Homo sapiens: one gene and its partners. The protein of the gene in region 2 purifies or fractionates together with the protein of the main gene of each other region. This does not show direct contact. Each region holds a gene or a part of one and is shown on either strand. Other genes may lie near its edges. The genes, in order: NDFIP1, TNFRSF10B, RIPK1, SCAMP1, STX3, FGFR1 and CKAP4.

Region 1 (3,500 bases), on a different chromosome or scaffold from region 2:
AAGCTCTTGGCAAGGTATTCTTAGCCTCCTCACACCTAACCACTCTTGTGCTGTGGGAAGGTCACCAAAAGAAGCAGAAGAGTCAGCAGCAAGAACAAAGGCAAATACAGACTTTTCGAATATGTTCCCTTAATATACTGTAGCCAGTAATGAACTTCATTTAAACCTAGCTTGGTTTATACTTAACCCGTTTTATATTTCCTGAGCTTGGTGTCAAAGTAATCACGTTACCCCTGCATAATTTAGGTCTCAGAAAGGAAGCATGACAATTCTAAGAAATACAGAAATCCAAAGAACAAAGAGGTTAAGAGGTCTTCTATGACAATATTTATAAGATAGGCTGCCTGTCTCCTGGAAACTTGGAAATGTTAAATTTGATCATCCCCCACCATAGTAAAAGATGACAGTGCAAATAAATTCCAGCCTTCTTAGAACCACCAATTTTCACTTTGGTAAGGAAAAAAACACTTCCAGGTGAAGAGTTTGCTCCACTAAAATTCACTACTTTAGAATAGTGTACTTTTTTCAATTGAAAAATAAAAACAATTTAAAACACCATTATGACTATGGTATAATCCCAAGACCTCACTGTACAGGCTTCTCACTCTGGCTTATTTCTATAATGCTGGTGATAAGATTAGGCTCCATCAAGAAAGCTGTTTAAAACAAAACACTGCAATGTAGGGGGATCGCGGGGAGAGGCAATCACCTTCAAAAAGAGTAAGCACTTAGTGCCTGCCATCTGCATGCATAATAACTTGCTGAACAATGGAATCCTTAAATATACATCTTTTTACACTTCAGGGGCAACAAGTCAGGCATTCACTAACAAGTGGAGGAACCATGTGCGCTAGAACTAGAGTGTGCTATAAAATTGATTACTTGGTTCCAAAATTTATTTTTAAGATTCCCCTTTTCCACCCCTGGGAACCCTTCTGTGCAGCCTCCCTGCCATGTCCCTGGAGCTCAGGGATCTTCGGGCTCTTTCCTGACACTTTCTGAAAGAATACGCGGCATTGTCACGTTTGGGTTAGAGTTGGAAAGATGCTCAGTCTCTTCCATCAACTGGGTCAGTGGAAGCCCGAGTCCAATTTAACTGTCACAGAATCTGGGTTGTAGGGGATACTCAGAGAGACAGATCTGAAAACTGGGACAGATCTGGGAACTTCTGCTCTCAGTGCACAGAGATGTTGGGCAAGGGTAGGGGGGATATCCTTTGAGTGACTGTGATAGATAATAAATAGCTGTTGGACACTGGATTTTTTTTCCTGTCATATAATTTCTGACCAATTTTACTAAACTTCAAATATGATTTATTTTTTTGAGACAGAATCTCACTCTGTCACCCAGGCTGGAGTGCAGTGGTACCATCTTGGCTCACTGCAACCTCTGCCTCCTGGGTTCAAGTGATTCTTCCGCCTCAGCCTCCCAAGTAGTTGGGATTACAGGCATGCACCACCATACCTGGCTAATTTTTGTATTTTTAGTAGAGATGGGGTTGTGCCATGTTGGCCAGGTTGGTACCAAACTCCTGACCTCAAGTGATCCGCCTGCCTCAGCCTCCCAAAGCGCTGGGATTATAGGCGTGAGCCACCATACCCGGCTGAAATATGATTTAAATGGCATTTTTTCCAAATACAGCTATACAATTACCTACACAGGCCATACAAAGTAGAGTTTAATACAGAACTACCTATAACTACCTATGCCTCCATCGCTAAGAAATAAATAATCCAATCACCTGAGAATTCAGATGACCTTTCACTTTCTCACACCCAGAGTGTGCCATTACTCTTTTCCTGATTACCTTTGCTCCCTTCTATGTGCTGAGCAGACTAGAATGGCTCCCCAGAAGAACCCTAAAACTCTTCCTACTTCAGATATGTCACAATCTGCCATGGTGCCTTTGGCCTTGATGACCTTCAATTTTAAGAAAACATTTATTTACAAATAGGTGCTACTAAGGTTTTGTTCTCAAGTCACACCTGTAATCCCAGCACTTTGGGAGGCTGAGGTGGGCGGATCACTTGAGGTCAGGAGTTTGAGACCAGCCTGGCCAACATGGTAAAATCTCGTCTCTACTAAAAATACAAAAATCAACCAGGTGTGGTGGCATGCACCTGTAGTCCCAACTACTCGGGAGGCTTAGGCACGAGAATCACTTGATCCGGGGAGGTGGAGGTTACAGTAAGCTGAGATCAAGCCACTGCACTTCAGCCTGGGCGACAAAGTGAGATTCTGTCTCAAAAATAAATAAATAAATAAAATAAAATAGAGCGTTTTTTTTTCCCTCCTTATCACCTTCCTCTGTATCTAGGTCCTATTGTTATTAAAAATAAATATGACATTTTTATGAATCTCCAACACAGAAATCATATATAGTTCTAATTCTAATAGAAACAAACTTGAATTTAACACGTTTAAGACATTATACCCTACAGATTTAAACTATTATTTGAGTTCCCAATCAGCAAGAAAGCTTCACCACCGCCCTCCTCACTAAGCAGTTCTAAAATGAGTTGTTTTTAAGCAATAGCAGAGCTGGGGCTAGGATTAGGGCTAAGCAAGGGGCAACATTTATAACTGTAGCAAATGGCAGGACCTAAAGGCACTTAAAAGTCATTCTTGGATTATCTATATTTACTAAGAATGAGAGAACAACAAAAAACCCTACACTAAACAAAACCCATAAATCCTTATATATGAGAAAAGGTATCAACATACACCTCAGAATTCATACAAACAAACAAACAAAGCACGTGAAAAATAATGCTGAAGTATCCAGTAAGTCCATAAAGTTGCAAGTATTTTCACTACTTAATTTTTTCTTGGTTTGGTCATATTTAAACAGCAAGAAAATTCTTGTAAGTTTCAAGTCCCTTCTTTAAGTTATTAAAAATAAATATCAGAAAATTCTGGGTCAATGCTTGAACTCTAGTTTTGAATGTTATTTACTACTTCTATCTTAGAGTTAATTGCTAAAACTTTTACCTTAAAATGCAATTTTTAAAGCTCTCATTACCAACCCACTACTTCTGCATAGTCCCTAAATCCTACCAAAACAAGGCAGTATAATTACAAAAAGTAAACAAGCACATTTCTTTTGGTAAACAGCTGAGTATGCTATTTTACTGCTGTTCAGAAATAATCATTAAGTTTGTGTGGCCTGTACATTTACTTTATATATTGTAAATATAAACTCTGTTATTCTAACATCACCAAATTATTTACATTCAAGAAAAATTCTCTATCTAATTGTTATTAATTAGGGGAAGATATTTTAAATAATTCTGACAAGATAAGAGAGACTAAACAATAAAAAGGCAACCCAATTATAAAATGGGCAAATGATTTGAACAGACATTTCTCCAAAGAAGATATACAAAAGGCCAGTAGACACAAAATGCTCAACATCATTAAGTCAGCAGGAAAACGCAAATCAAAACCAAGACTCAATACCACTTCATGCTTACTAGGATGGCTATAATAAAAAAGACAGA
Region 2 (3,500 bases):
GCATCCAACATTCTACTGTTGGTTTTTATGAATTTGACTACATTAGGTACCTCAAGTGGAATCCTATTTCATTTGTCCTTTTATGAATGGCATTTTACTGAGCATGTCTTTAATGTTCATCCATTGTGTAGCATGTGCCAGTATTTCCTTCCTTTTCAAGGCTGAGTAATACTCCATTGTATGAATATACCACATTATCTATTGATCTGTCCAACTTGAGTTTCTTCCACTTTTTGGCTATTGTGAATAATACTGCTATAAACGTGGGTGTACAAATATCTGTTTGAAACCATGCTTTCAATTCTTTTGGACGTATACCTAGAAGTGGGAATGATGGATCATCTGCTAATCCTGTTTTTACTTTTGAGGAACTATCATACTGTTTTCCATAGTGGCTGCACCATTTTACATTCCCATTAACAGGGCACGAGGGTTCCAACTTCTCTACAAATTTGCTAATGCTTATTGTGTGTGTGTGTTGTTTTTGTTTTTTGAGACAGAGTCTCGTTCTGTCGCCCAGGCTGGAGTGCAGTGGTGCCATCTCAGCTCACTGCAAGCTCCGCCTCCTGGGTTCACGCCATTCTCCTGCCTCATCCTCCCAAGTAGCTGGGACTACAGGCGCCTGCCACCACGCCGGGCTAATTTTTTTGTATTTTTTTTTTAGTGGAGACGGGGTCTCACCATGTTAGCCAGGATGGTCTCAATCTCCTGACCTCGTGATCCGCCTGCCTTGGCCTCCCAAAGTGTGGGGATTACAGGCATGAGCCACCGCACCCGGCCTGTGTGTGTTTTTTATAATAGTCATCCTGATGGGTATAGGATGGTATCTCTGTCGTTTTGACCAGCAGTTCCCTAATGATTAGTGATTAAAGTATCTTTTCATATACTTATTGACCATTTGTATATTTGCTTTGGAGAAATGTTTATAAAAATCAGTTGCCCATTTTTAACTGGGTTGTTTTTGTTTTGTTAGATCGTAGGAATTCTTTATATATTTTAGATATTAAGCCCTTATCAGATATATAACTTAAAATATTTTCTCTCATTCTGTGGGTTTTGCCTTTTTATCCAGTTAATAGTATCTTTTGATTCACAAGAGTTACTGATTTTCAAGAAGTCCAAAATGTTTATTTTTTCTTTTGTTGCCTATGTCCATGGTGTCACATCCAAGAAATTATTGCCAAATCCAATGTCACAGAATTTTTATCCTATATTTTCTTTCAAGAGTTCTATAGCTTTAGCACTTACATTTACATCTTTTATTTGTTTTTAGCTATTTTTTAAATACAATGTTAGGCTAAGGTTCACTTCATTCTTTTGAATGTGGATATCCGGTTCTCCTAGCCCCCTTCATTGAAAAGACGGCCCTTTCCTCCATTCAACAGTCTTGGCATCCTTGTGAAAAATAATTTGGCCATATATGTGAGTGTTTATTTCTGGCTCCTCTATTCTATTCCACTGATCGATTTATCTGCTTTTATGTCAGTACCATCCTGTTTTGATTACTGCAGCTTTGTAGGAAGTTTTGAAAATCAGGAAGTGTGAATCCTACTACATTTTTATTCATTTTCAAGATTGTTTTGGATATTCTGGTCCCTAGAAATTCCATATGAATTTTAGGATACATTTTTTCATTTCTGCAAAAATGTCCTTGGGATTTTGATAGAGATTACATTGAATGTATAGATCACTTTAGGAAATGTTGACATAATTAGTCTTATAATTCATAATCATGGCATATCTTTCCATTTATTTTTGTATTCTTTAATTACTTTCAGTAATGTTTTATAGTTTTCATTGTACTAGTCTTCCACCTCCTTGGTGAGTTTACTCCTATTTTATTATTTTTGATACTATTGTAAATGGATTTTTTCCTAATTTCTTTTTTTGAATTGTTCATTGGTAGTGTATAGAAATGCAATTGACTTTTCCAGTTGATTTTGTATTCCGCTTCTTTGATGAATTCATTTTAGTACTACTAAATAAAAATTAAAAACACAGTTTAGATATACCCCACGGCAATTACCCATAACCATGTAGCCAAAACTTAAGACATCCTGATATCCCTGAAACATTAGCTATAATCATAAAAAATCCCACAAAATATAAGTTTTACACCTTCATCATGACATAATATGGTTCAGTGAAGTTAAATCAAGCAGCTATAGAAAAATCAGCTTAAACAGCTCTGATTGCCTTTAAAAAGAATATAAATTTATAAGTCAATCATGAAATTGTCAAAATACATCCTCCTTTATAGCCTGTACTATACCTGCTGTAAGGCAAGTTTCTTACCACTTGGTTTGAAATCTCCCAGATTGCAATCTGTACTGTCTTTTACTGAACAACAATAAATTTCAAAATTTTAAAAATTTAATATTATTTTATTTTTGGCAGTTTAATTTTTTGTGAAATCTTTTGGATTTTTTACCAGTAAGATCATATCATCTGAAAACACAGATTATTTTACTTTTTCCTTTACAGTCCAGATGCTCTTATTTCTTTTTCTTGCCTGTTTTGGCTAGAACTTCCAGTACTATGCTGAGTGGCAAAGGTGGGTAGATATCCTTATGTTGTTCTTAATCTTAAAGGAAAAGCTTTCCGTCTTTCAACACTGAGTATGATGTTAGCTGTGGGGTTTTCTTACATGGCTTTTATGATGTTGTGGAAGTTTTCTTCTATTCTTAGTTTGCTGGGTGTTTTCATCATGAAAGGGCTTTGAATTTTATCAGAGGCTTTCCCTGTATCAACTCAGATGATCATGTGTCTTTTTCCCCCTTCATTCTATTAATGCAATGTATTACATTGTTCAGTTTTCATTTGTTCAAACATTCTTGCATTCCGGAAATAAATCCAACTTGGTCATGGTGTATAATCCATCTAAGGTACTGTTGAATTCTCTCTGATAGTATTTTGTTGAAGATTTTTGCATCAGTTAGGGATACTGGGATATAGCTTTATTTTCTTGTAATATCTTTATCTGCTTGGGTATCAGAGCAATGCTGGCCTTACAGAAAGAGTCAAGAAAGGTTCCCTTCTCTTCAAGTTTTTGAAAGAGTTTGAGAAGTAGTGGTATTAGCTCTTCATTAAAAGCTTGTTAGAATTCACTAGTGAATTCTGTCAGTTTAATTAATAGTATTGAAGAATCAATGTTGGTTTTGTGGATTTTCTCTATGGTTTTTCTTTTTTCTTTTTCTTTCTTTCTTTGAGACAGAGTCTCACTCTGTTGCCCAGGCTGGAGTGCAGTGATGTGATCTTGGCTCACTGCAACCTACATCTCCGGGGCTCAAGTGATCCTCCCACCTCAGCCTCCCGAGTAACTGGGATCACAGGTGTGCTCCCCCGGGCCAGGCTGCTTTTTATATTTTTTGTAGAGACAGGGTTTTGCCATATCCAGGCTGGTCTCAAACTCCTGGCTTCAAGCAATCCTCCTGTCTTGGCCTCGCAAAGTGCTGGGATTATAGGCGTGAGCCATCACATCCGGCCTCTACTGTTTTTCT
Region 3 (3,500 bases), on a different chromosome or scaffold from region 2:
TGGGAGTTAAAAGAAAATTTTTCATCACTAATGGTAGTCTTTGAGCTATATAAGGTCAGAAACAAAAATATCCAAGACTGATTTCTTACCTTCAAAAAGTAGCAAGCAAGGTAAAAGCAAATAAGCAGATAACTTCCCATTTATCAGAGATTGGGTGAAATAGGACTACTATGCACTCCAGGTTAGAGTCAAAGATGCCTGCCAGTCACAAGGACCTGTAACCCGATGCTTGCGGGCATCTGTGATGAATCCTAGCCCCAGATGAAATACTCCCAGACCAAGTGGTTTGGCAGGGTCCATTCCACAGGGGCAATTTGCATCTGGCAGCTGATGATGCCCTCTGTCCCCATTATAACCCACAATCTATAATAGAGCTGCTTGGTTGCTGTATTTTCTGAAAAATAAAAAAAGACAAGCTTGTGACTATCGAAGACCCATTTACCTGTTGGTGGCAAGGAGCTGAATGGCATGGTGGGTGTATTTCCTAGATAGTTGGTCTCAGGCACTGGGATATTATGCAGACTAGGCATATGACTTGGAATTGGCCTGTACCAAACTCTGGGACCTGCTGTTCCTGGATCCAGTGGTCTTGTTCCAAAGCCATGTGAGCTATATAATCCATTGTTCTGATACAGTACTTGAGGTTGGCTGGTGAGCCCTGAGGGCTGGTGCACTGCATTACCATGACTGGCTGCACTGGAATAAGCAGTGCCTTTTCCCTCTGTATTCTGAAAATTCTCGTAAGGTCTTTGCTGTGCAAAAGGGTCATGGGAGACCCTGCGTCTCCTTTCCTCCTCTCTGTTGTAAGCCACATTCTGTCTGGGCTGCTGTTTCGTCTGCCTGTCCATGCGGCTGCCATAAAGATGGTAGTTGGCTTCGTCTTGGAGTTTACTCTGCAGGCTGGGCTCATTCTCTTCTTGTGGGTGCTCCAGGGAAGGAGCAAACCAGGACTCCTCCACAGGACCCATCCCAAGTCCCTGGGAACTGTGCAGTGAACCAGGCTGTTCTGTGGCTGAGAAGAAATGATCAACATTAGAATGGGTGTCATGAAACATTAAAAAGTAAAATAAAATCTGAGCGCCGTCATGAATCTGTATCTCAAAGTAACACACAGAAAACAAGTACGAGACCAGTCCAAAGCATTTAGGAGATGGTCCTCTTCCCACAAGCTTTACAAATAATAATAGGAGCTCCTCGCTGGCAGTAAGAGAGTACTAGGAAAATTATAGCAAGCAAGAGAAAAGCGGCTGTTGCAGGGATGATCAAGGAAAAAAGGGACTTGGTTTGGAGCAGAGAAGGTGGTTGTCTCCTTGGAGCAATTCAGGTGGAAAATAAGATCTGTGGCTGGGTGCGGTGGCTCACGCCTGTAATCCTAGCACGTTGGGAGGCTGAGGCGGACGGATCACCTGAGGTCAGGAGTTCGAGACCAGCCTGGCCAACATGGCGAAACCCCATCTCTACTGAAAATACAAAAATTAGCCGGGCATGGTGGTGCATGCCTGTAATCCCTGCTGCTTGGGAGGCTGAGGCAGAAGAATCGCTTGAACCTGAAAGGCGGAGGTTGTAGTGAGCCAAGATCACACTACTGCACTCCAGCCGGGGTGACAGACTCTGTCTCCAAAAAAAAAAGATCTGCAGCAGCTCTGTCCTAAGCATGTCCCATGAATTCTTTCATTCTTGAAGAGCCCTATGAGAGGAGGAGCAATTATGATTTGATGAGTGAAGTTTAGAAGAGGTTAAGTAATTAGCCACAGATCAGGTAGCTAAGCGGCTTCAGTATCCTATACTCTGCCATCCCTTTTGTTACAGTGAAAAAAGTATCCCTACTTGACCTGAGACCAGCCTCTCTGCTTGTACCCTGGCTGTAAGTCACTCCGAGCTCCTCAGGGACTTTGCTCTCACATATGTCCCCTTCCTTCTTCTGAACTGTCACTTCTCCCCATCAGATATATTAGGCCTTTTGTTCAGAACACTCTATGACTGGTGAGCACACTGTTACTTCATATTTCAAATACATGTAACTTGACTCTCGAATATTATTATAAATTCCTGTAAGGCAGGTGTTCACTTTTATAGTTTCTTCTGTTTCCCATATGGTCCTGAATAGTCTTTTAGAGAGTGGAGTGAATGAGTAACCAAACAAATAAATGAATAGATTTTGACCATAGTGTAATTTACCTGAATTTGACCGGCTTGAAGGTACTGCCACACAATCAAGTTGAAGAGACTGCATTCTCTTCACAACTGCATTTTCGTTTGAATACTCTTTCTATAATTAAGAGCATAAATACACACTTTAGTGAACAGCAGGAAATAGAGTCCCAGAAAATTTTAACGAGAAGAATTCATATTTTCAGAAGGTAGAAATTTCACACAGATCTTACAAGTAGTAATTTTTTAAAATTAATGTTTTTCCCAAATAGCCAAAATGATCTTTAAAAAGAACAAGGTTGTAGGACTCACACTTCCTGATTTCAAAACTTACTACAAAGCTACAGTATTCAAAACAGCGTAGGACTGGCATAAAGACAGGCACATATGCCAGTGGGGCAGAATGGAAAGCCTAGGAATAAACCCTCCTATAAATGGCCAATTGATTTTTGACAAGGTTGCCAAGAGCATTCGATGGGGGAAAACTGAATATACACATATGAAATAATGAAGTTGGACCCTTATTTCATACCATATAAAAATTAACTCACAATGGATCAAAGACTTAATTTAAGGGCTAGTGCCACAAAAATTCTTAGAAGAAAACACAGGGAAAAAGCTTCATGACATTGGACTTGGCAGCGATTTCTTGGTTATGACACAAAAGCACAAACAAAAGTAAAGAGTAAAAATAATACATCAGAATTAAAAGCTTCTGTGCATCAAAGGATACTATGAAAAGAGTAAAAAGATAACCTACAGAATAAGGAAAAAATACTTTGGGAGGCCAAGGCAGGTGGATCCCATGAGGTCAGGAGTTCGAGACCTGCCAGGCCAACATGGTGAAACCTTGTCTCTACTAAAAATACAAAAACTAACCAGGCATGATGGTGTGTGCCTGTAGTCCTAGCTACTCGGGAGGCTGAGGCAGGAGTTATCTCTTGAACCTGGGAGGCAGAGGTTGCAGTGAACCAACATTCTGCCACTGCACTCCAGTCTGGGTGGCGACAGAGCAAGATTCTGTCTCCAAAAAAAAAATAAATAAATAAAATAAAATAATGGGGAAAAAGTTGCAAACAATATATATCTGAAAACGGATGAAATCCAGAACATAAAAAAAAAAAATCCTACAACTCAACAACAAAAAACAAACAACCCAATTCAAAAATGGGCAAAGAACTTGAATAGCAGTTTCTCCATAGAAGATATACAAATGGCCAATAAGCCATGAAGATGCTCAACATCATGAGTCATAGGGAAATGCAAGTCAAAACCACCATGAGGTACACTTTCACACTCCTTAGAGTGACTATAATATAAAAATGGTAAATAAAAAGTGTTGGTAAGAT
Region 4 (3,500 bases), on a different chromosome or scaffold from region 2:
TGAATTGGGCAAAAGATATGAACAGACACTTTTCAAAAGACATTTATGCAGCCAACATGAAAAAAAGCTCATCATCACTGGTCATTAGAGAAACGCAAATTAAAACCACAATGAGATACAATCTCATGCCAGTTAAAATGGTGATTATTAAAAGATCAGGAAACAGATGCTGGCAAGGCCATGGAGAAATAGGAACGCTTTTACACTGTTGGGAGTGTAAATTAGTTCAACCATTGTGGAAGACAGTGTGGCAATTCCTCAAGGATCTAGAACCAGAAATACCATTTGATCAGCAATCTCATTACTGGGTATGTACCCAAAGGAATATAAATCATTCTGCCATAAAGACACATGCAAACATATGTTTATTGCAGCACTATTCACAACAGCAAAGACTTGGAACCAACCCAAATGCCCATCAGTGATAGATTGGATAAAGAAAATGTGGCACATATACACCATGGAATACTATGTAGCCATAAAAAAGAAATGAGTTCATGTCCTTTGCAGGGACATGGAGGAATCTGGAAGCCATCATTCTCAGCAGACTAACACAGGAACAGAAAACCAAACACCTCATGTTCTCACTCTAAGTGGGAGTTGAACAATGAGAAGACATGGACACAGGAAGGGGAACATCACAAACCAGGGCCTGTCAGGGGTGGGGGGCAAGGGGAGGGAGGGCATTAGGACAAATACCTAATGCACGCGGGGCTTAAAACCTGGATGATGGGTTGATAGGTGCAGCAAACCACCATGGCACACGTACACCTATGTAATAGACCTGCACATTCTGCGCATGTATCCCAAAACTTAAAGTAAAATAAAATAAAATAAATCATTGAATTTTCCCATAAGAGTGGGTGAATTTTATAGTATATACAATATATCCTAATAAAGCTACTTAAACAAAATCAAGGAATGGCAGTATATGATCATTATTTAAAATATAAAGGTAAATGCCCACATAAGTCAGCGGCAAGAACTGTTGGTAGAAAAGGATTAAAACAGGTCTTTATTTTACCAAAAAAGTATTTGCACAGCTACTTAAAACTGCATATAAAATAACCTGTATACAAAGATGTATCACTTTTATAAATATTAAAATACTTTTAAAAATATTCTCTACAAGCTAAAAAAAGGTTTGGGAGTACAAATATATATGAAAAACTAAAATTATGCTAGAGAATGAGCAAAAATTATCAAAATTCAACCTAATGGTTACCTATGGAGCAGGGAAATGGAAACATACCAGTGCTTCAGCGGTATTGATAATGTTCCATTTCTTAAATTGACCAGTGGGCTCACAGTTCATAGATGACTCATTATTATGCCTTTTAACTTGTGTTTCAGGTATTCTTTGGTATGCATTAAATACATCATAATTAAAAAGTGGGAGAAAGTACTACTTTGAAAATTGTCTTCAAAGCTACAAATAATGGCTCTGTAAAATATAATCTATAAGAAATCACAGTTCACTTATAGATCATAAAATGTAAATGATAAAATCTAAGAGGGTCCAAAAAAAGTTAAAAATTAATTACAGCTACCATTTATTCACCATCTATAATGCAAAACTTGCATACATTATCTCTAATCCTTCTTTCAACTCTACAAATATCCCTCATTTAAACCTAACAAACTGAGGCTCTGAGTTTTACTGCATGTGCTCAGAACCGCACAGCTTTTTAAGTGGGGAAGCCAAGATCACTAAGCATTATGCAAATACTCTTTCTCAGTCTGTTTCTAATAGTTACTCAACAACATTCAACAATAATGCTGCCTTGTTAATAATTACCTAATATTTTGATGTATTTGCATAATGCCTAGTGATTTGTGGAAGTACAAAATTCAGGACCAAGTTGGGGTTTTTTTGTTGTTTTTCTTCTTTTTTTTTGAGGCAGGATCTCACTCTGTCGCCCAGGCTGGAGTGCAGTAGCACGATCTTGGCTCACTGCAACCTCTGCCTCCCGGGTTCAGGCGATTCTCCTGCCTCGAGCTGGGATTACAGAAACATGCCACGATACTCAGCTAATTTTTTGTATTTTTAGTAGAGATGGAGTTTCACCATGTTGGCCAGGCTGTTCTCAAACGCCTGACCTCATGTGATCCGCCAGCCTCTGCCTCCCAAAGTGCTGGGATTACAGGCATGAGCCACCATGCCCAGCCCCAAGTTACAATCTTTGTAAACTACATAAATAACAAAATGACAACTTCATGTTTAATCCTGATACCTAATAAACTTAACTTTTAAAAACACATACATTTGAAACTTCACTATATAATTTTCCTTGAGATTTTTACAATGAGTTTACCTTACGGAGAACAAAGTCCTGTAAATATATCAATATAAGGAAATGCCAAAGATACATAACAGGAAGGTATATTAATGATTATAAATACTTTAATTCAACTTTCCCCATAAAAAGTATTCCTCTCGAGGCTGGGCGCAGTGGCTCATGTCTGTAATCCCAGCACTTTGGGAGGCCGAGGTGGGCAGAGGCCGAGGTGGGCAGAGGCCAAGGTGGGCGGATCACCTGAGGTCAGCAGTTCGAGACCAGCCTGACCAAAATGGTTAAACCCTGTCTCTACTAAAAATACAAAATTAGCCAGGCATGGTGGTGCATGCCTGTAATCCCAGCTACCTGAGAGGCTGAGGCAGGAGAACTGCTTGAACCCAGGAGGCAGAGGTTGCAGTGAACCGAGATCAAGCCATTGCACTCCAGCCTGGGCAACAAGAGCAAAACTCCATCTCAAAAAAAAAAAAAGTATTCCTCTCATTTCTACTCTGCACAGTGAAAACCAGATTATTAATATATTTGTATATACTCTAAAAGACTGAGATGCAGCTAAAAACTCAGCCTAGGGATCAATAATGCCACAAGTAAAAATGTTCCACCAAGCATTTTTATTTCAACTGCCAAAATGGGGGAAAAAAAAAAGATACCAAGTGACTTCAGGAAATAAAAGGCACAAAGCTGGCTTTTAGTCATTTATTTTGGCTACATAAGTAACAGAAGGTTTAAAATCCAAATTCCCTAGTCTCAGGTCACTTTTTTGAAAAGTTTCATAAAGATATCCTCACTCCCACCAGCCAGCATCATCACAGATCGATAACATATTGGTAATGTGATGGAGGTCATTAGGCAGAGGTTAGATGTCCAAAAAAAACAAAACAAAACAAACTAACAAAAAACAGAAAAAGCCTTGTGAGCCATGCTTAGATAACGAAGAAAATAACAGCAATAACTCAGATCATGCAAGGAGTAACTATGTTCCTTTCATTCCTCTCCAACCCATCTCTACAGGAGAAGCTCTCCCCGTTCCTTGGCAACCAATCTCCCATATTTCAATGTATCCAAAGGTTCTTTTCTCCTTTCCCTTCTCCCATCATTTCTTCCCTTCACTCCTCCTCTCATCATTTCTTCTCTTTATGCCATTTCTAAGTAATAATTTACTTCTTCATTGTCTGATACATTTTCTCTCCAAATTCCCTAATG
Region 5 (3,500 bases), on a different chromosome or scaffold from region 2:
AACAGGCCACACACAGACTGTTAGCTACCCCTGCAAGAAAGGCTGCCCCTGCCACAGCCCTCATGCACGCTCCTGGGGAGCTCCTTGCCTCCCTGAACTCCCTGCACCTGCAGCTCCCCCTCCACCTGCTGGACTGCATGAGCTCCGCAGTGGCCTCCCTGCTCACGAGAGGGATGTGCTATCCGAGCACACAGGGCACTCACCCCAGAAGTGAAGATGGCCGGGTTGCCACTCTCCAACATCTCCTCCAGCTCCTCATCGGTTGTCTTTTTGCCAGCTTTGTAACAAAAGAAGTAGAGCGTCAAATATAAGATCACGGTGAAACACCATCTGATAAGGACCCTGAAAATTAGGAACGTGACTTCCCTATAAAGACCGTGGCCTTTACAACACTCCCCCAATTGCCTCCTGACTCATCTTATTTCTGCCCTAATCCAAGCCATCCTTAACACTATCAGCAGTTACCTTCCTAAAGCACTTATCTCATTACATTGCTTCCCAGCTCAGAACATTTCCTTGCCCCATTCACTACACTATGGTGTCCAAGGCCCTCATAACATGCTAGTTCATGGGCAAGCCCTCCCTCAATCCATCCTAACCTTATGCTACTCCAGACACACCCTTTCTCCAGACCCTAGACAACCTGCCACTCCTAAACACACTTGCTCTTTCTTGATTATGTTCATACCATTCCTCTCATCCAAAGCACCTTCCACTCCACGGGGCCCTGCCTTCCACATTACTACATTCCTAAAGGGTATGGCTTTATTTATTTCTCTAATCCTCCCAGCAACTTACACCATACTTTTATCCTCCCAGCAACTTACACCACACTTTTTATTTCTTAAATGTGCTTTGCTGTCAAACAGACAGCAAAATGATACAATGAGTCCACAAGAGAGCAACTGTTTGGCAAGCATTTCCCCTCTATATAGGAGACAATGCTGGACCCCATACAATAAAATTACTTGGGCCTGATAAACACGGTGTCACCTTTCAGCCTACAGCACAGCATTCGGGATGTGCCAGTGGTGCAGGAGCTGCCCTAGACTTAGGCACAAAATGTGCTTCCTGCTTGCTCCACCAGGGCCTCAAAACTTGGGATGGACAACCAGGTGGCAGGAAAGGTGGAGGGCACACGCCAAACCTCAAGTACATACTAATTTCGAGCTGCCGCTGGATTCGCCCTTTGCTGCGTTCTCGGAAGTCCACTTGAGCTTCATTGTATTTGGTCATCACCTCCACAAACTTCCGAGAAAGGACAGAGTGCTGTGGGATGATGTAAAATGCAGTCAGGCCCCAGTGGTTCTGTAACTGTTATAGAACCCCTCCCCACCCCCACATAGCCATCTACAATAGCACTGGACTTGGAATCAAAAAACCAGGTGTCAAACCAAGTTTTTTGTTTCCTAGCTTTGTGCCACTGGGAGAGTCCACTGCCCTTTCCAGAGCATGGTTTCAGCACCAGTTTACTGAAACCGGTTTACTGCTGACCTCACGTGGTAATTGCGAGGCCAGAGGTCATCTCTAAATCTCTGAGCCCTACATCCACATGGACTAGTAGCATTTTTCTGGCACAACACTTGGCTTGCATTCTAAAACTGTCAGATTCCCTTCCCACATGTCATACTTACCAAAGATCCTTGAGTTCTTACGCTAAACTCATCTCCCCAACTCTTCTTGCTTATAAGTAGATGCATTATCTCAACAGCCCTGCATGCCTAAGCTAAAACCTTCCTAATAATTTTTATTCCTTGCTCACCTCTCAGCATCAAGCCCTACTTACTGGTTTCTCCTTTGGAAAATCGCCAATATATATACTTTTTCCAAACCCACTACCACCATACAAATTTAGACCAAAACCCTTGCAAAAACCTAACTAGGGACCTTCCAGTTTCCTGCTTCTTTCCCACTTGTAAACGGCTTTCAAATGGCTACCATAATAATCCTCCTAATATACTGCCGCCTGAAGCAAATGCCTGTAAGTTATAACATCAGATCCAAATTCCCCAGACTGGTCCTCAAAGACCTCTAGAATGTGGCACTACATTATCTACTAAAAATTATGTGTCCACTATCCCACAGCAAACTTTTTTCTACAGAAAGCCTATTGTCTTCACGTCTGCCCCTTACGTCTACCCACCACCACTACCAACCACTGCTGCCAACACACACATATGTGCGTGCCTCACTCCTGCCCCTGTGCCTCTCAGAGAGGGGAAACTACTTCCTGAGGCTGCTCATGTTGGCACTCTGGCCCAGCCTCCTCTGGCTACCCCCCATTCTTCCTGAGATCTTTTGATGCTGAGAGCACCATGCATGTGTCTTCTTATCGCATCCTCCTGCTGGGTCGCATCCTCCTGCTGGGTCTTAGGTAATAGCTTTCCATGCCGCTTCAATGGCATGCCAGTTCTTTAAGGACAAGGATCCTATCTTTGATGACCCCTAAAGTGCCTAGCTCCAAACTGGACAACCAATGACTAACAATTGTTAGAAGACATTAATTTCCTCTCCTGTAAAACAAGAAGGCACGCTAAATCCTAAGCTGTGCTCTAGGAAGCCTGAAAAGCTCTTCAGGGGCCTCCTTAGAGAAGGAGAGTACAGGAGAGGAGCCAAAAGGGCTGGACTCTGGCCCTGACCCCTATTTCAACCTGGAGAGTTCTCCTTTACCAGGTCTTCAAATTGAGTTTCAAAATAAGGATTGTATTAAAAAAAAAAAATCCCTCCACAGTTAAGGGAAAACAATAAGAGATTGGACTAGCTAATCATGAGACCAGGAAAAGTCTTACCTGGGATTTCCGAATCCGAAGGTCTGCCGATGACCTGACCTCATCTTCTTCAATATGCTTCTCCATGCCTAAAGAGGAGAGGAAGGTTATACTTGCAACCTATCTCCGCCTCCAAGAAACATGCTATTCAGTGAAACTTCCTCACTCATTCCCACACATCCAGCCCACGGAGATGTAACAGGTAGGTGTCACCTCAAAAGGTCAGCTCCCAGATGAGCCACAGGACGTGCATTCCACAGCCTTTACGATGACCAGGTTTTGGCATAACAGTTAACAGCATGGGTTCTGGTCACCATGAGACTTAGGCTTGAATCCTTGCCCTGGCACTTACTGGGTGTGACTTTGAAAAAGCCACTTAACCCCTCTTAATGTACCTGTTCTCTCATCTGTAAAACAGAATAACAGTCCCTCCCTCACAATACTAATGTGAAGATTAAATGAGAAGACACATAAAGTGCCTAGCACAATGGCAGGTGCACTATCACTGTTATTACTGGAATCTGCTACTAATGACTCCTCCAGTTAAAATAGTTATTGCAATATACTTGGGGGGAAGAAATGGTAAATTGAGCTGAGCAATAATGCTTTCTCTTCTGATCAATAGCATGCATGCACCAAATACACTGGGCAAGAATGCAGGCTCTAGCAACAGAACTAAGTAAACCTTCTAGGCTCTGGAAGAACTGAATCTATGACAGTAGCTTCATTGAA
Region 6 (3,500 bases), about 15 Mb from region 2:
GACTTCAAAAGTCCAAAGCATTTGATTAAAAAAAAAAAAAAAAAAAAAGAATCACTGCTTCAAATGGAATGTTCTATTTGTGTTTAACCCACTCCCTCCAGGACTGGAGCAGGGGTTGTGAGTGGAGACAGTGGCCAATGACCTACAGAGCAGTTTTAGCACCAGCAGCAAAGAGAAGAGAAGGGAGGGCCAGTATATCTCTGAGACAGCTAAGCTAGGGGAGGATGAGGTCTAACTCTGGGACAAAGAGGTAAACAACTTTCCCAGCTTCTGGTTCCTTCCTGTTGCGAGATCCACTGGAGATTTAGGCAATTACCTTCCCTGGATTAATGGAGCATTCAGGGACAATGAATGTCTGGGAGTGAGAGGAAAAAGGAAGAAAATGCCATTACTCCTCGTCCTCATATGGCTTAGAATTTATATATGGCATTTGTTTTTCCAACTCTTCGTAAGAGATGCTCTTATCATGCACCCCATTTGCCAGAAAGATCGTACGTAACTCAGGACACAGGGCTAAGACTGGGAAACGCTTGGTGGAAAGGCTCTGGTTTCGGGCAATGAAAAGGCAGGGGTCCAAATGCCTTCCTTGTGTAGCTGACCCCAAAGCCCCAGTGACGTTGCTCTCAAAGCTTATTACAGACCAGCACCACCCATCCCTGCAGCCCTCTGTTCCCAGCTCACCTCCACTTTGTGACCTCTGTTACTAGTCCTGGGGGATGTGGCTAGATCCCTACTGAGATGGAGTGTGTGTGCCTGAAGCGTGAGGAATGATCCCATTCGGGGGCAACTGAGCCTGCCCACAGGAACTTGAGCCCCCGAGACAGTGGTCTCCTTCCCAGTAGACTGGCCCACGAAGACTGGTGCCATGATTACCTTCAAGATCTGGACATAAGGCAGGTTGTCTGGGCCAATCTTGCTCCCATTCACCTCGATGTGCTTTAGCCACTGGATGTGCGGCTGCGGGTCACTGTACACCTTACACATGAACTCCACGTTGCTACCCAGGGCCACTGTTTTGTTGGCGGGCAACCCTGCTTGCAGGATGGGCCGGTGAGGGGACCGCTCTGTGGAAGATGGGAGAGGAGGCACTTGTCATGGGGACCTTGCCATGGCTAAAGAGGGGTGGGCTCACCTGCGCCCCACTTGGCTTTCCCAGTGATGGGTTGTAAACCTCCCAGCACTTCTGCTGAGCCCAAGCCTCTCAAAACAGAGCTGGGGAAAGGGACACCCTCTCTTCAGGCCCTAAGCCATCAGGATCCTCCTCCCCAAGGCAGTCATCATATTTACAGTCACAGTAAGTCGCTCATGCTTTAATGGAGAACCTTCTAATTCAGTTGCACCCCCAGACCTCAGCACAACCTGCTCCTCCTTAAAAAACCAGAGTCACTTTGACTCCTGCTATTCAAAGTGTGGTCCACGAGCAGTGCTACCAGCATCCCCTAGGAGCTTGTTAGAAACGCGGAATCTCAGATCTTACCCCAACCTCTTGGATCAGAATCTCCTTTTTACCTTTTTTTTTTTTAAAGGCAGGGTCTCACTCTGTCACCCATGCTGGAGCACAAGGGTGTCATCATAGCTCACTGCAGCTTCGAATTCCTGGGCTCAAGTGATCTTCCCACCTCAGTAGCCTCAGTTAACTCAGCTGGTACTACAAGTACATGACACTGCACTAGGCTAATTTTTAAATTTTTTTATAGAGACAGGGTCTCACTGTGTTGCCCAGGCTGGTCTCACACTCCTGGCCTCAAGCAATCCTCCAGCCTTGGCCTCCTAAAGTGATGGGATCACAGGCGTGAGTAATCCCATCATGCCACCTGGAGCTCATAAGCCACTGCTCCTGGCCACAATCTCCTTCTTAGACCATATCATCATAATCAAGAAGAACACTGGCTGAGAGATTCTGTACCCAATGATCTCTAGGGAGTGAGTTTCAGAACTCCTAGAAGGAAAAGGTTGCGGTAATAGCTCCAAGAGGCTCAATGTTCTTCCCAGAGTCTCCTGTGATGCCCTGAAGTTGGCACAGGTGTGCAGTTCTGCATTAGCAAGGTGTCTGACCTCTCTGAGCCTATGCGCCTGTGCTCCTGTGCAGGGCTAGACTAATACTGCCCACCTTGCAGGTGTGCCATGAGCATTACAGGGCAGGTATTTAAGGAGCCTGGCATCTTGCTAGCATTAAGCGACAGCTCCTATTACGCTACATTTAACACCTCTCCAACAACGCCTCCTTCAGGACAGACTCTGAACAGCACCTTCAATTTCACAGTGACAACCAGCTTTGACCGTGTTACTGTCTGATCTTAACTCTATTTTACAGATAAGAAAAGTGAGGCTCAAAAGGGAGAAGTGACCTGCTCAAGGTGACAAAGCCAAGAAGTGCCAATCGCTATCCTGACTCTGCCCCTAAGAAACCTGGACACCCCGGCTGTGTTCTCCAAGCCTGGCTCTTCCCACTAAACTCATTCCTCCTGCTGCCTCTGCCCTCTTACCCACGACATCCAGCTGGTATGTGTGGTTGATGCTGCCGTACTCATTCTCCACAATGCAGGTGTAGTTGCCCTTGTCAGAGGGCACCACAGAGTCCATTATGATGCTCCAGGTGGCATAACGGACCTGAGGGGAAATGCCAAAGGGATACATTGAGGGTCCAGAGGAAAATGCAGGCCCCATGACAATGTCGGCACCCCGTGGCACCTGCCCTCCATATCAGAGCCTGGTGGCACAGGGCCCCAGGCTGCAGGGTTGGCTAGGACAAGGCGTGGATTGCCCCCCTACCAGCCCGTTCACACTCTGCAAGCTGGCAGATGGGGTGTAAAGACTCCAGAAGTCTCCACTGTGACGTTCAAGATCATTCGTGATCCGGACAGATGTGCCTTCTGCAAACACTCCCAAATACACCAAGAATGTTCCCAACTGTGCACCTCTCCTATTACACTAAGAATCCAGCCCCCACTGTCCTTGACAGCTCATTTCAAAAACCATCTCCTCCAGTCCAGTCTCTGGTCAGAACTGTGCTCACCCTTTCCTCTCTGCCTACCAAAGCACTGATCACAGTCTACTTTTTACGGTAGCTGCTCATGGACATTTGCCTCCTATCAGACTGCAAAATTTTTATGGGCAGGAACGCTATCTTGCAGCATTTAAAGCATGGTGTCTTGCATGTAGTGAGTGCATGGTGAATTAATTTAAAATATTTCTGGCTGGGTGCGGTGGCTCAAGCCTGTAATCCCAGCTCTTTGGGAGGCCCAGGCGGACAGATCACTTGAGGTCATGAGTTCAAGACCAGCCTGGCCAACATGGGGAAACCCCGTCTCTACTAAAAATACAAAAATTAGCTGGGAATGGTGGCTGCACATCCCAGGTACTCGGGAGGCTGAGGCAGGAGAATGGCATGAACCTGGGAGGTGGAGCTTGCAGTGAGCCAAGATGGCACCACTGCACTCCAGCCTGGGTGACAGAGTGAGACTCCGTCTAAAAAAAAAAAAAAAATGCTTACACCCTTT
Region 7 (3,500 bases), on a different chromosome or scaffold from region 2:
ATCCAGGTTAATTCTCTGTGCTTCTCCCTGCCCCTCACTTAGTCCCTTCTTTTTGCTTCTCACCCCTTCTCCATCACAGCTATGTATATAGATCACTTTCTTCTTTGGGGCTCAGTTTTCCCACCCACACAATGAGAAGAGGGCTCCATCCAGACTTTTAAGAATCCTCATGGCTCTAAAATAATTGAAATAGTGACTTCTCTGTTTTTTATTTCATATTTTATATTTCGTAGAGACAGGGTCTCACTCTGTCACCAGGCTGGAGCGTAGTGGTGTGATCATAGCTCACTGCAGCCTTGAACTCCTGGCCTCAAGTGTTCCTCTTGCCTCAGCCTCACAAGTAGCTGGGACCACAGGCATGCACAAGCACGTCCAGCTATTTATTTATTTTTAAAATTTTTGGTAGAGACAGGGTCTTGCTGTGTTGCTCAGGCTGGTCTCAAACTCCTGGGCTCAAGCAGTCCTCCTGCCTTGGCCTCTCAAAGTGCTGGGATTACAGATGTGAGCCACTGCGCCTGGCTGACCACTTTTCTTTTAATTTAGTAGTGTAATCAAACTATAATTTAATGTGTCATATTTATGGTGCACTTATTACGTGCCAGGCACTATGCAAAGCATTTGAAAATGCATCATCTGCTGACTCTCACAACAACCCCAAGAGGTAAGTACTATTATCAGCCCTCTTTGACAGATGAGAAAAGTGAGAGGCTAAGTAACTGAGCGGTGATATAGCTAGTTAGTGGCTGGGCTAGGATCCAAACTGTTGTCTAACTCCTGGAACACTATTAACCACTCCACTATTTAGCCTAGTACATAGTAGGTGCCCAATAAATGTTCCATTGACTTGAGACTCAGAACATGGCCAGAACAGTGTTAGATTTGCCATAGAATGTGGCCACTCTGTCTGTATCTTTGGGGTGGCCAGTAAATAAATTATTTTGCATTGAGGAACCAGTTGTGTTTGGTTCTCTGACAGCCTAAGTTTGAACCCTTTTATAACTCTTGGTTACTTGTTGGGGGGTGGAGTTTGGTTCATAGCAGGGAAGTATACTTACAGTATTCATAATTACTGTTCACTATGGGTCAGCCATGCTATTAAATGCTTTATAGCCATGATTTCTGTTCTCCCAGCCACCCTCTGAGGCAGGTATCATTTAGTAGTACCATTTTGCAGATGGGGCAGCTGAGGACTGGCTGTGTAACTCATTCAAGGTCACACACAGACCATAAGTTGTGTAGCTGGAGTTGGGTGCCCACCTGTCTCTTGTTCTCCAGATGTTCTTGTTATTGGAGAATGGCTCAAATCTTCTGAATGACTGTAGCACAGGCAGAGAGGCAGGCCTGTCCTTACCCAGAGGATTCAGCAGGCACAAGTGGGTCCTGGGCTTCAGAAAGTGTTGGCAGTTCATCTCTAGGCCCTCTGAAGAGCCTGTGTTGCCCTGGCAGATCCAGCGTGATATAAAGCAATGGTAGGAGTAGGCTTAGGCCTGGTAGGGACAGTTTAATGAGACTAGGACCTATTTGTGGAAGAGTGAGCTCCCTGGTCATATTTCTTTGTTTTCTTGTCTAGATTCTCTGGCTAAGGAGTCAGGGCTTCAGGAGTTGGCAGTCTCTCTTCCAGGTACTCAGGGCACTTTGAAGTCAGTGCCCCTGCCTGAGCATATCACATACTGGTTGAGAGCTCAGGTTCTGAAATCAAGCATTTTGGGATTTTAACGTTTGAGCCTACCACTTACCAGTTTCCTCATTAGTAAAATGGAGATCACTGGGAGATACCAACTCATGAGATTATGGTGAGGGTGTAATGAGATGATGTGTCTGAAGTCCTTTGTATAGTTATTGGTCCATCACAAGTGTCCGGTTGAATGTCAACCACTGCTAACACCCAGTCCCCCCACCCTAGGGTGTAACCTTGAGGGCAAGGATCCTAGCCATTATTTCATCTCTGGCATCTTGCCTGTTGCCTACCACTTAGTGGGCATCCCACATTTGTTGGGGGAACAGATATTTCCAATGCATATTGATGATAATGAATTATTTGCACATAAAGATGCACAACTCATAGTCCCCTCAGTAGGGGAACACCATGTTCTTTTTTATAGTGTTGGGGGTTGGATATAATTTCTGTTCTAGTCTCCTTCCTAACCATTTGTGAAGAGCCAGCGCAGGTCAGGGCTGACAGGGATCAGAGGAGACATGGACCAGCTCATCAGGCTTTGCTTGAATTCCCTCATTATGTGATTCCATCAAAAAACACTGGATGAAAGCCTGCCATGTTGAAGGTACTGTGCTCACCTGCTCACACCTCTGTTCTGAGTGCTATGCTTAGAACAGGCAGACAGTGTGATTTAATAACGTAGTTTCAGAGATGGGCTCTCTCCAGTACCTTCACAGAGTGTCCTTTAAGACTCAGGTTGTATTTGGTTGGGCAGGGAAATTGTCTAGTATTCTGGAGCCCCTGAGAACCTTATTCTAATCTGCCTTAAAACAGACTGATGGAGCTAGACAGCACTTTAGAGACCTATTTGCTATTGGATGAGGAGCCTGGGACTCGGAAAGTGAATGTGACTCTTCATGCTTACAGAGCTGGCTACTGGTGGGGCTGGCACGAGAGCTGAGGGATGTTGTTCACATCCCACTTCAGTTTATCCTCCTGCCTTTTGGCATGGGTTGAGGATATTTCTAGGAATCTGCAGACTTACCAGGTGCTTCAGAAGAAATGGGAAATAATCACGATGATAATAGCTGCCATGTATTGAGTGTTCACTATGTGCTGGGCACAGTTTAAGTACTTGATATATTATTAATTCACTTAATCTTCATACAGACAATCATATGAGTCCGGTACTGTTTTCCCATCCTTCAGCTGAGGAAACCAAGGTACAGATAGGCTAAATAACTTCCCCAAGATCACACTGCTGGAAAGTGTTAAAGTTATGATTTGAACCTAGGCAGTCTGGCTCCAGAGACCGTGCTGTTTTATTTTTTAACTTTTTATCATGGCAGTGTTCAAGTGTAAACAAAAAAAGAATATAATGAACCTCAGTTTCAAGAATTACTGATGTTTTGCCATTCTTTTTTCATTCCATCGGCACTCTTCCCCTCTGCCACTTTTTTTTTTTGGCTGGAGTTAGAAGTCTGACTGTGAACCACTCTCTTGCCCTATGCGTGCCCAGCCTGGTCTCCCTTCTTCTCCAGATGCTGTTGGTGTTGCATGGCCATAGCACAGGCAGAGAGGTTGTCCTGTCCTGAAGCCAGAAAATTTACTAGGCAGAAGTGGGTCCAGGGCTTCAGAAAATGTTGGCAGTTCAGCTTTAGGGCCTCTAAAGAGCCTGTGTTGTCCTGGCAGATCCAGGGGATAGTGAATTAGGAATTAGTTTTAAAATGAGGCCAGGCGCGGTGGCTCACGCCTGTAATCCCAGCACTTTGGGAGGCCGAGGCGGGCGGATCACGAGGTCAGGAGATCGAGACCATCCCGGCTAAAACGGTGAAACCCCGTC

What was found.
Region 1: the proteins of TNFRSF10B (region 2) and NDFIP1 purify together in Homo sapiens (affinity purification with mass spectrometry; 3 studies listed by BioGRID and IntAct, with this or other methods). This does not show direct contact.
Region 3: the proteins of TNFRSF10B (region 2) and RIPK1 purify together in Homo sapiens (affinity purification with western blotting, with the first as the bait; 3 studies listed by BioGRID). This does not show direct contact.
Region 4: the proteins of TNFRSF10B (region 2) and SCAMP1 purify together in Homo sapiens (affinity purification with mass spectrometry; 3 studies listed by BioGRID and IntAct, with this or other methods). This does not show direct contact.
Region 5: the proteins of TNFRSF10B (region 2) and STX3 purify together in Homo sapiens (affinity purification with mass spectrometry; 2 studies listed by BioGRID and IntAct, with this or other methods). This does not show direct contact.
Region 6: the proteins of TNFRSF10B (region 2) and FGFR1 purify together in Homo sapiens (affinity purification with mass spectrometry; 3 studies listed by BioGRID and IntAct, with this or other methods). This does not show direct contact.
Region 7: the proteins of TNFRSF10B (region 2) and CKAP4 purify together in Homo sapiens (affinity purification with mass spectrometry; 2 studies listed by BioGRID and IntAct, with this or other methods). This does not show direct contact.

What each region holds. Positions count from the first base shown.
Region 1 is NC_000005.10:142,125,779-142,129,278, reverse strand, and holds part of NDFIP1 (NEDD4 family-interacting protein 1), read right to left. Parts: intron 1-3,500. UniProt on the Homo sapiens protein: Activates HECT domain-containing E3 ubiquitin-protein ligases, including NEDD4 and ITCH, and consequently modulates the stability of their targets. As a result, controls many cellular processes.
Region 2 is NC_000008.11:23,059,032-23,062,531, forward strand, and holds part of TNFRSF10B (tumor necrosis factor receptor superfamily member 10B isoform 1 precursor), read right to left. Parts: intron 1-3,500. UniProt on the Homo sapiens protein: Receptor for the cytotoxic ligand TNFSF10/TRAIL. The adapter molecule FADD recruits caspase-8 to the activated receptor.
Region 3 is NC_000006.12:3,102,994-3,106,493, reverse strand, and holds part of RIPK1 (receptor-interacting serine/threonine-protein kinase 1), read right to left. Parts: intron 2,270-3,500; coding exon 2,179-2,269; intron 1,073-2,178; exon of another isoform or gene 1,013-1,072; coding exon 443-1,012; exon of another isoform or gene 1-442. UniProt on the Homo sapiens protein: Serine-threonine kinase which is a key regulator of TNF-mediated apoptosis, necroptosis and inflammatory pathways.
Region 4 is NC_000005.10:78,423,117-78,426,616, reverse strand, and holds part of SCAMP1 (secretory carrier-associated membrane protein 1), read right to left. Parts: intron 1-3,500. UniProt on the Homo sapiens protein: Functions in post-Golgi recycling pathways. Acts as a recycling carrier to the cell surface.
Region 5 is NC_000011.10:59,789,876-59,793,375, reverse strand, and holds part of STX3 (syntaxin-3), read right to left. Parts: intron 2,858-3,500; coding exon 2,790-2,857; intron 1,270-2,789; coding exon 1,161-1,269; intron 278-1,160; coding exon 204-277; intron 1-203. UniProt on the Homo sapiens protein: Potentially involved in docking of synaptic vesicles at presynaptic active zones. Apical receptor involved in membrane fusion of apical vesicles.
Region 6 is NC_000008.11:38,423,636-38,427,135, forward strand, and holds part of FGFR1 (fibroblast growth factor receptor 1 isoform 1 precursor), read right to left. Parts: intron 2,611-3,500; coding exon 2,487-2,610; intron 1,065-2,486; coding exon 874-1,064; intron 1-873. UniProt on the Homo sapiens protein: Tyrosine-protein kinase that acts as a cell-surface receptor for fibroblast growth factors and plays an essential role in the regulation of embryonic development, cell proliferation, differentiation and migration.
Region 7 is NC_000012.12:106,241,521-106,245,020, reverse strand, and holds part of CKAP4 (cytoskeleton-associated protein 4), read left to right. Parts: intron 1-3,500. UniProt on the Homo sapiens protein: Mediates the anchoring of the endoplasmic reticulum to microtubules. High-affinity epithelial cell surface receptor for the FZD8-related low molecular weight sialoglycopeptide APF/antiproliferative factor.